4 separate regions of the Homo sapiens genome follow, and all the other regions are linked to region 1. The links come from fine-mapping of genetic effects on gene expression. A gene starts in region 1. Each other region holds a variant in brackets. All regions are shown on one strand. Distances are from middle to middle.

The links. PIP is the estimated chance that this variant, and not a neighbour inherited with it, causes the effect.
Region 2: its variant is fine-mapped to the expression of ZDHHC16 in monocytes after R848 (Quach 2016, PIP 0.95).
Region 3: its variant is fine-mapped to the expression of ZDHHC16 in whole blood (INTERVAL, PIP above 0.99).
Region 4: its variant is fine-mapped to the expression of ZDHHC16 in whole blood (TOPMed, PIP above 0.99).

What each region holds. Positions count from the first base shown.
Region 1 is chr10:97,445,049-97,447,733 of GRCh38, reverse strand. ZDHHC16 (zDHHC palmitoyltransferase 16) reads right to left here and starts at 1,559. Exons shown (of 12, transcript NM_198046.3): 1 at 1,381-1,559. EXOSC1 (exosome component 1) reads left to right here and starts at 1,728. Exons shown (of 8, transcript NM_016046.5): 1 at 1,728-1,779; 2 at 1,887-2,002. The coding sequence starts at 1,749. RefSeq lists a silencer at 1,298-1,507 and enhancers at 1,439-2,018, 2,019-2,599.
Region 2 is chr10:98,285,995-98,288,679 of GRCh38, reverse strand. No RefSeq gene overlaps it. Among named protein-coding and RNA genes, the nearest start is that of LOXL4, 19 kb to the right of the region's middle. The variant C/T (reference allele first, on the strand shown) is at 1,197.
Region 3 is chr10:97,565,149-97,567,833 of GRCh38, reverse strand. The region is part of intron 1 of UBTD1 (ubiquitin domain containing 1); the gene reads right to left. Among named protein-coding and RNA genes, the nearest start is that of ANKRD2, 6.3 kb to the left of the region's middle. RefSeq lists a silencer at 974-1,063. The variant G/C (reference allele first, on the strand shown) is at 1,030.
Region 4 is chr10:97,375,289-97,377,973 of GRCh38, reverse strand. The region is part of intron 15 of RRP12 (ribosomal RNA processing 12 homolog); the gene reads left to right. Among named protein-coding and RNA genes, the nearest start is that of RRP12, 25 kb to the left of the region's middle. The variant G/A (reference allele first, on the strand shown) is at 987.

The DNA of each region.
Region 1 (2,685 bases):
GTCAGGCTGGTCTCAAACTCCCGACCTCAGGTGATGTGCTTGCCTCAGCCTCCCAAAGTGCTGGGATTGCAGGCGTGAGCCACCGCACCTGGCCCAGACTTTTCATCTCAAGAAATAGAAGTAAAGCAAAATTCAAAAAGATGTGTGTAGGGGAGAAGGGGCTAATCTCAGTGAACGGGAGGAAACAGAGCAAAGCGCAGCTTTACTACCACCCCAAGCACAAGCCCGAGTACTCTGATCCTTCAGTAATAGTCACAGGCCATACTGGTCATCTGCCACCAGACTGGAGGAGATTGCTGGCCACAACACTCCCCTCTTCCCATGGCTTTAAGTCACATCTGTTTCCCAATGGGAAAGTCGACTGAGGGGACAGGGAAGGACAGACGGCAAAGCCATCAGAAGTCAGGTGAACTGAGATCAAAGTCGTGGCGAATGTCATCTGGACAAAGACGCTGCTCTCAGGATGTTTGCAATCTCAAGTAGGAGATACCCAACATCAATAAAGAGTAGCATTTTATTCATGTGCAGACCTCCCTTCTGGGCTAACACGCTGAGAAGAAAAAGAGTAACAACTTTATTTTGGGGCTGCTTATCTTTTGATGACGGGCCCACACAACCAGAGTTCGGCTTTTTCAACCAGAGAAAGCTTACTGAAGTGGGGATGAGGGGCCGCGAAGAGGATCGGACCGCAGGACTGGAAGCTGCAGTTTAAAAAACCGGGAAAAGGCCGGAGGCAGTGGCTCATGCCTGTACTCCCTGCACTTTGGAAGGCCGAGGCGGGCGGATCAAGAGATCAAGACCATCCTGGCTAACATGGTGAAACCCCGTCACTACTAAAACTACAAAAATTAGCTGGGCGTGGTGGCGCGCGCCTGTAAGTCCCAGCTGCGCGGGAGGCTGAGGCAGGAGAATCGCTTGATGCCGGGAGGCGGAGGTTGCAGTGAACAGAGATCGCTCCACTGCACTCCAGCCTGGCGACAGAGCGAGACTCCTCAAAAACAAAACAAAAAAACCGGGAAAAGGTTTTATTTCTCAATGACAGCCGCGAGGTGAAACTGCGATGGACTGGAAGTCAAAAACCGTGGGTTCCAGTTTGGGCTCTATCTTAACTATCTTGATCATTTTGGACAAGTCAAACCCTGTCTCTGAATCTGAGGTTCCATATCTGTGAAACAGACGAGTTGGGTCGCTTGACCTCCTTCCCTCCTGCTCTGAGCGTAACGATTGCTCGGAAGGTGCGCTCGGGCTGAGGAGGGCACGGCCCCGCAGGGCGGGGCGAGGAGAGAGCAGGAACCCGCACTCAAGACAAGGCCCCAGGGCAGTGCCCTACCCAGAAAAAGGGACTAGGATGGGGAGCAAGGGCCGAGGCTTCGCCCTTACCTGCCGCCTGCCGACTCCCCAGTCAGCCAAACCGAGCCCCGTAGCCTCTGCCGCCGCTCACTGCCACCCCCTCCGACTCGGCGCCCCGGCCGGGCCCGGCTCAATCCAAACCACCATGGCCCGCCGCCCGCAGCGCCAGGCAGCGGACCCGGACCCGCCGCCAGCCCATCCTCAACCACACGCGCAGGCGCCAGCGTGGACCTCTGAAGTTCCGCCCCCGGATTTGTCCCGGGGTAACCTGGGAAATGGAGTTTACTCGCAAGGATAAAGAGTACCAATTGACACGTGTCTTACTGCGGAACTGTGCCTGGGTTTGGCCAATGAGAAATCGACTTCGTTTTCATCCTGGTTTTGGGACAGCGGCAATCATGGCGCCACCTGTGAGATACTGCATCCCCGGTAAGTGAGCGCTTCCCGTACAGAGTCCTGGATAGGGGCTGAAGCAAGAAGGCTAAACGGCCTACAGCTTCTGGGGGCCCGTGACCGATGCAGCATTTTTTCTGCAGGCGAACGTCTGTGTAACTTGGAGGAGGGCAGCCCGGGCAGCGGCACCTACACCCGCCACGGCTACATCTTTTCGTCGCTTGCCGGCTGTCTGATGAAGAGCAGCGAGAATGGCGCGGTAAAGGAAGCGGCATGCCATCTCCCCTCTGTTTTTCCCTTAGGCTGCCCTTGAGTTCCAGTCCTTAGGCATGGGCACTGCGGACGCGTCTTTAGTGCCTCAGTGGTACAATGTTGGTCTCTTAGTTTCTTCTAGCCGTATCGCCGCTGTGGTGCACTTAGCCACCACACACTAGTTGTGTTGATCTCGCTTGGTTGTGCTGCTGACCCTCGGGGAGGGAAGTTGGGACAAAAGCAGATGCGAACTCAGTATCCCATCCCAGCCCAGCTCAGCCCAGCAGTGAGTTGCATACTGTATGAATGTTGCTTACCTTTCCGACTTTATCTAGCGCCACTATCTCCACCTCACTGACGCAATCTAGTCATACTGTCTTTTCTGTGTTTAAAAGTTATAATCACAGTCTCTGCTTGCCCTTTAAAAATTTTTTATAACATACTAGCTTCTTTCAGTGTCGGTAATGCGCCAAGCTTTCTCCTGCTACAGAGCCTTTGTAACATGCCATCTATCTGGAACGCTTCTATCTTCCTAGGCCTATTTAATTCCTACCTCCTTTAGATAGCTTCTCTACTATCACCTCAGAGAAGTCCTTCTGGACCCACTAATTGAGGAAAGGAGTTTTGTGGGGTGTTTTGTTTTTGTTTGTTTTGTTAAAGACTCACAAAAAACTCTGTTCCTTTTCTTCC
Region 2 (2,685 bases), 840 kb before region 1:
TTCTCCTTCTTTACACAAATGGCATCCTTCTACTCACATTGGTGAGGAACTTGCTTTTTTCACTTTATGTCTGGAAACCATTCCATGTCTTTCTTATACTTTTTTCTATTTATTTTTTATTTTTAACTTTTATTTTAGGTTCAAGAGTACATGTGCCTGTTTGTTATATAGGTAAATTGCATGTCATGGGGGTTTGGTGTACAGATTACTTGGCTACTCAGGTAATAAGCATAGAACCCACAGGTAGTTTTTCAATCCTCACCCTCCTCCTTCCACCCTCAAGTTGGCCCCAGTGTTTGTCGTTCCCTTCTTTGTGTCCATAGGCACTTGATGTTTAGCTCCCACTTATAAGTGAGAACATGCAGTATTTAGTTTTCTGTTCCAGTGATAGTTCACTTAGGATAATGTCTTCCAGCTCCATCCATGTTGATGCAAAGGACATGATCTCGTTCTTTTTCACGTCCATGTAGATTCCATATATGTACCACATTTTCTTTATCCAGTCTACCACTTATGGGCATTTAGGTTGATTCTGTGACTTTGCTATTGTGAGTAGTGCTTTGGTGAACATACACGTGCATGTGTCTTTATAGCAGAACAATTTATATTCCTTTGGGTATACACCCAATAATGGGATTGCTTTTCTCATCCTTTTTCTCTGTTGCTCCATGTTCCATACCAGGGTTATACCATGGGTTATTTGATCACTCCTTTACTGAGGTAAGTCTAAATTTCCTTTTTTCCTGGTAATGAACCATGTTTCTTTGCCCAGGTCCTTGGGTTCATTCAGAATTTATCAAGCACTTCCCAGGCCCAGGCATAGGACTAGGTGCTGAGAGGAGGCAGACAGCACTGGGATTGATCACGGGAGGGCAGGCAGCTCTGTTCACCACCCATACTTCAATAAAAGCCTTTAAACCATTACCAGGCCATTCGCTCAAACATGACCACCTCTACGAACTTGCCTACACCTCAGTGGAGGGTCCTTATCGCTTCATACCTGGCGTGATGGTTAATTTTAAGCGTCAGCTTGACTGAATGAAGGACTCTATAGAGAGCTGGTAAGGCATCACTTCCCAGTGTGTCTGTGAGGTTGCTTGGAGGGGAGACTGGCATGGGAGTGGGTGGACTGGGTGGGGAAGGTCTGCCCTCAGTGTAAGTGGGCACCATCTAATCAGCTGGGGGCCTGAATAAAA[C/T]GAAAAAGGGCAGAGGAAAGGTGATCGCCTCTCTTTCTCCTAGACCTGGGACACTCTTCTTCTCCTGTCCTTGGACATCAGAAATTCAGGCTGTCAGGCCTTGGGACTCAGAACTTATGCCAGCAGCCCCCAAGCTTCTTAGGTCATCAGCCTCAGACTGAGAATTACACCATCAGCTTCCTTGGCTCTGAGACTGAGCCACACTACAGCATCCCAGGGTCTCCAGCTTGCAGATAGTCTGCTGTGGCACTTCTCAGCCTCCAAACTGCGTGAGCCAGTTCCACTAAGAAATCCCCTCTATATATGAGTATGTGTGTGCGTGTGTGTTTGTATGTGTGTGGAGAGAGAGAGAGAGAGAGAGAGAGAGAGAGAGGGAGAGAAAGAGCTCCTACTGGATTTGTCTCTCGGGAGAACCCTGGCTAATAGACCTGGGATAATTTCCCAGTTATTCTCCCTACTCAGGTGTCTCCAGTTTGTGCAGCTAGCTTGCTCTTCCTAACCCACTGAGCATGGGTCTTTTTAAATGTGCAGCCAGGTTGAAAACCACCGCAACTTTGTCTTTCACCTCCAGCCCTTCCTCTCCTTTCCACGCTGCTTGGACCTGAGGCAGCTCTGGGACCTTCCTGCTGACTTGCACTCTGTTCTGGCCTGAGCCATTGTTTCCTGCCATGATGACTATGGTGGGTGAGGTGGCTTGGTGTTTGTCCAGGGTCACCTTTCCCCAGTTATCGTCCTTACAGAGGGTCACAGCCAATCCGTAGTCCGTGTCCTGTGTCTCCTCTGAGAGGGCGTCTGGAGCCACCAACCTCATCCTGCCCACCTGGGAGCCACTGTATGCCCCATTAACTGGGCTGCTCCTTCCCACTTGGATTCAGGTTAGGCATGGAAGGAGCTGGTATTCTGTCCTGTCTTCAGAAACAATTAAGATGAAAAAGGATCTCGAGCAGCCGCATAGAAAGGTCTGCTTCAGCACGGGGTGTTCATGCGTCCACGAGAGCCATGGTGCCAGCGGTAGCATCCCAGGAGGGAGCTGTATGATTTCCAGAACGAAGGAATCTATAATCGATACTAGGAGACAGCATAGGCGATTGTAATTGATTAAGTGAAGTGCTTAAATAGAACGATCACAGTCTAATTATCTTTCACTGCTGACTCGAGGGATACTCTAATGTTAGAAAAGAAAACAATCTGGCTTCTCCCTAGTCCTTCTGAGGAACCGAGTGGAAAGCAGTAGCGATTGCAAGGGAGGAATCAGGCCAAGAAGAGGGGCAGTAAAACAGGCTCTGGTCCCTGGCCTGCAAGCTGGTGTTTTTTTCTACCCAGGGTCCTTTTTCCTTTTATTGGTACCACACTTCACTTTCCCTTTGAGGAACCCCCCACCCATTCTGGGACTTGGCTGACTCTCAAAGTGTCCCCTTACCACCTGCCTCCCTGTTCCCCCAGAGGCCTGGCACAGAACCTCATCTGGCCCAGTCAGGCCATTTTACTG
Region 3 (2,685 bases), 120 kb before region 1:
CAGGCCAGACCCTGAAACCCTGCTGCACTGGCTACTAAGTATTCAGGTCTTTGAAGCCCTTCCTAAATAGCAGGGAAGAGTCAGAAAACTTCACATAACCAACCTAGGGACATAAAATAATTGTGTCAGCAAAGCATACGCTACCATTGTTTTTGTTTTTTGTTTTTTGTTTTTGAGATGGAGTTTCACTCTTGTTGCCCAGGCTGGAGTGCAATGGCATGACCTCGGCTCACTGCAACCTCCGCCTCCCGGGTTCAAGCGACTCTCCTGCCTCAGCCTCCCGAGTAGCTGGGATTACAGGCGCCCACCACCACGCCTGATTAATTTTTGTATTTTTAGTAGAGATGGGGTTTCACCATGTTAGTCAGGCTGGTCTCAAACTCCTGACCTCGTGATCCACCCGCCTCAGCCTCCCGAAGTACTGGGATTACAGGCGTGAGCCACCGCACCCTTCCCACATGATGTGGGGCAGGGCGCGGTGGCTCACGCCTGTAATCCCAGCACTTTGGGAGGCAGTAGGATTGCTTGAGCCCGGCAGTTCTAGACCACCCAGGGCAACATGGTAAAACCCTGTTTCTACAAAAAAATTTTAAAAATTAGCCAGGCATGATGGCACGCTCCTCTAGTTCCAGCTACTTGGGAGGCTGAGATGGGAGAATCACTTGAGCCTGGGAGGTTGAGGCTGCAGTGAGCTGTGGTCATGCCACTGCACTCCATCCTGGGCAACACAGCGAAACCATGTCTCAAAAAAAAAATTATTAACAATTTTAACATCTTGTTACTAATGTCCCACTTAAAAAAAGGATTTTTTAAGCAATCATGACCAACAAACTCCCCCAAAAATTCCTGCAGCATCTGACAAAGAAAACAATTCTGTCAAATGTCATTTTTCTTGTTACCCAGCTCCAAGTGACCTCCAAGACAACTCCAAACCACAGCCAAGACTGAGGGCAGAGGTATCTCTCAAAGGCTTTTGGAGGCTCAGTCATCTCAAAACTAAAGGCAGAGTGAGCCACAGGAGTGAGATGT[G/C]AAGCACTCTGCTTCCACTATAACTCAGGTCCTACAGTGAGTGGAAGAACTGAGGCTGGGGGCCACCACCAGGCTGCTCCCACTGGCTGGGGCAAAAGGAAGCAAGGAAGAGAATTGCAGGCAGCGATCTCCGCTGAGAAAGAACCCCAGGCAAGCCTTTATTTATATACATGATCCCATTTCATTCTTGCAGTAGCCTTAGGCAGTAGGTATTATTATTGCTATTTCACAGGTGATATGACAGATTTAGAGAGATTAAATGACTTGCCCCAGGTCACATAGTAAGTGAGTGAGGGTTCCACCTCAGGTCTGACTAAATCCTGTAGTTCACCATCTGAATTCACAGTTACCTGTAGGGGCAGAAAACTCTAAAGCCAAATATTTAATTTAAAGTGTTCCTGGGGTGGTGAGGTGGCAGAAGGAAAGGCAAACCCTCTTTGGAGGAAAACAACTTCAAACCAGGCCTCAAAGAATTCCCAAGATAAAGTTCCAAGAAAAATAAATAAGGTAATAGTTTTAAAAAAAAAAAAAAAAATCTCAATATGCAAGGAAACAAGGCAGTACGAGCTTTACTGGCAAAAACAGCAGACAAAAGAATCAGATTTGCAAAGACTTTGGATAGATTATGAAATACTGAGTTAAGGGATGAGGGCCTTAAAAATATGAATAAGAGATTATAAAGAATGACCAAGGAGATTTTTTAAAAATGTTTAATTTTTGTGGGTACATAGTAGGTATAACCAAGAAGATCTTAAAAGAACCATATAGAACTTCTAAAAATTAAAAATACAGGCCAGGCCTAGTGGCTCACACCTGTAGTCCCAGCACTTTGGGAGGTCAAGGCAGATGGATCACTTGAGCCCAGGAATTCGAGATCAGCCTGGGCAATATGGCAAAAACCTGTCTCTACAAAAAATACAAAAAATTAGTCGGGCATGGTGGCATGCAGCTGTAGTCCCAGTTATTTAGGAGGCTGAGGTGGGAGGATCACCTGAGCCCAGAAAGGTTGAGGCTGCAGTGAGCCATGATCATGCCACTGCACTCCAAATCCAGCCTGGGTGACAAAGTGAGACCCTGTCTCAAAAAAATAAAAAGAAAATAAAAATAAAGAAAAATACAATATAATTGAGATTCGGATGTCTTTTTTCTGTTTGAGAGACAAGGTCACTCTGTCGCCCAGTCTGGAGTGCGGTGGTGTGATCATAGCTCACTGCAGCCTCAAACTCCTGGGCTCAAGGTATTCTCCCCCAGCAGCCTCCCAAGCAGCTGGGACTATATAGGTGACACTATGCCCTGCTAGGTCTAAAATTTTGAACTGAATTTCCAGAAGTATACAATAGGGAAAATGGGAAGGAAGCAACATTCAAAGAAATCATGGAGATGTCCACTCCCCCTAAACTGATCTATAAATGTAATACAATTCCAATATAATTCCTGTCAGTTTTTTCCCAAGGAACCTGGCAAACTGATTCTAAATTTTATATAGAAGAACAAAGATGTTCCTAGAAAAGAATCAGGTGGGAGAAGTTGTGCTGCCATGATCAGCATTAATTATAAAGCTACAGTTGGCACAGTACTGGAACAGGGACAGACTGTTGGACAAAAAAAGCCAAACCCCGTAAAATATTTGAAGAGATTTATTCTGAGCCAAATGTG
Region 4 (2,685 bases), 70 kb after region 1:
TTCAGAAGCTTTTCGTTTTCATTGGATTTTGTGGATTTTGAGGATGTAGGGCAGCATTGCTAAACTATTTCATCCGCTGTCTGTTTTTGTAAATAAATTTTCTTTTTTTTTCTTTTTTTTTTTTTTTTTGAGATGAAGTCTTGCTCTTGTCACCCAGGCTGGAGTGCAAAGGTGCGATCTCAGCTCACTGCAATCTCCGCCTCCTGGGTTCAAGAGAATCTCCTGCCTCAGCCTCCCAAGGAGCTGGGATTACAAGCACCTGCCACCACACCCAGCTAATTTTGTATTTTTAGTATAGATGGGGTTTCACCATGTTGGCCAGGCTGGTCTTGAACTCCTGACCTCAGGCGGTCCACCTGCCTCAGCCTCCCAAAGTGTTGGGATTACAGGCGTGAGCCACTGTGCCAAGCCTGTACATACAATTTTATTGAAACACAGACACATACACATTTATTCTTGTTCTGTCACCCAGGCTGGAGTGCAGTGGCACGATCTCAGTTCACTGCAACCTCTGCCTCCCAGATTCAAGCGATTCTCCTGCCTTAGCCTCCCAAGTAGGTAGGACTACAGGCATGTGCCACCACACCTGGCTCACTTTTTAAAAATTTCTTGTATTTTTAGTGCAGATGGGGTTTCACCATGTTGGCCAGGCTGGTCTCAAACACCTGACCTCAGAAAATCTACCTGCCTCGGCCTCCCAAAGTGCTGGGAGTACAGGCATGAGCCACCATGGCCAGCCTGTCACACTACTTTTTAATGACAGAGTTATTGTGATAGAAATCATACGTACCGTGGGCTGGGCACAGTGGCTCACACCTGTAATCCTAGCACTCGGGGAGGCCGAGGTGGGTGGATCACCTGAAGTCAGGAGCTTGAGACCAGCCTGGCCAACATGATGAAACCCCATCTCTACTAAAAGTACAAAAATTAGCCAGGCATGGTGGTAGGTGCCTATAATCCCACCTACTCGGGAGGCTGAGGCAGGA[G/A]AACGCTTGGACTCTGGGGGGCGGAGGTTGCAGTGAGCCAAGATCGCACCACTTCACTCCAGCCTGGGCAACACAGCGAGACTCTGTCTCAAAAAAAAAAAAAAAAGAAAAGAAAGAAATTGTATGGCCTGCCGAGCTTAAAGTACTGGTCCTTTTGCACAAAAAGTTGGCTGACTCCTGGTCTAGGGCAGTGGTTCTCAACAAGGAGGGTGATTTTGCTGCCTGTAGGACATTCAGCAATGCCTGGAGACATTTTTGGTTGTTACCGTTGGGGGATGGGTGCTCTGGCATCTAGTGGGTAGAGGCCAGGATGCTGCTAAGCACCCTGCAATGCACAGGACGACCTCACACAACAAAGAGTACTAGGCCCAAAATGTCCACATTGTCAAGATTGAGAAACCCTGCTCTAGGGCAGTTTCCTGATTTCACACATGATCTTGTAGAATATACAGGAAGTGCTTAAAGAAGAAAGTAAGGCCAAGCGCAGTGGCTCGTGCCTGTAATCTCAGCACTTTGGGAGGCTGAAGCGGGCAGATCATGAGGTCAGGAGTTCGAGACCAGCCTAAACAACATGGAGAAACCCCGTCTCTACTAAAAATACAAAAATTAGCTGGGCATGGTGGCACGCACCTGTAATCCCAGCTACTTGGGAGGCTGAGGCAGGACAATCGTTTGCACCCAGGAAGCAGAGGTTGCAGTGAGCCGAGATGACACCACTGCACTCCAGCCTGGGAGACAGAGCGAGACTTCATCTCAAAAAAAAAAAAAAAAAAAAGAAAGTAAAAGTCATTCAGTCTTCCCACCCAGAAATTGTTACTACTCAAGTTTTTAATGTATTTTCCTTTGCTTTGTTTGGGTCGGTTTGTTTGTTTGTTTGTTTGTTTTGAGACAGAGTCTTGCTCTGTTGCCCAAGCTGGAGTGCAGTGGTGCGATCTTGGCTCACTGCAACCTCCACCTCCCAGGTTTTCAAGCAATTCTGCCTCAGCCTCCTGAGTAGCTTCGTCTACAGGCGTGTACCATCACCCCTCGCTAATTTTTTTATTTTTAGTAGAGACAAGTTTTCGCCATGTTGGCCAGGCAGGTCTCGGACTCCTGACCTCAAGTGATCCACCCGCCTTGGCCTCCCAAAGTGCTGGGATTACAGGTGTGAGCCACCATGTCTGGCTGCATTTTTTTCTGTGTAAAAATAGTATTGTATTTCTACTCTGTTGGAATTAATGTGCACATATTAGTAACTTAAAGTTTTTCCTGATATTAAAAAGGAAAAATTTGTTCTATTTTCAATAGAAATATATGCCCATCAAAGAAAATACAGATGAACCCCCAAAATGAGGGTCATTACCATCATTAATGTTACCTATAAACCCTGGCATTATTCTTAAGGCTGATGTTATGTATTCCCTTTGTCCTGGTAATACTACACGCAGGTATCTGTCCTGAGAAGATAGACAAGTGCGTACTGATTTATGTTCCTAGCAAAGACGTGCCTGACAGTATTGGCTTATACTGGCAAAAACTGTAACACATCTAGTATCTTTCTCATTAGGGTTCCAGTTAAATTAGTTATGGTAAAGCCCTACTTTTGGCCAGATGCAGCAGCTTACGCCTGTAATCCCAACACTCTGAGAGTCTGAGGCAGAAGGATTGTGTGAGGCCAAGAGTTCAAGAACAGCCTGGGCAACATAGCAAGACCCTGTCT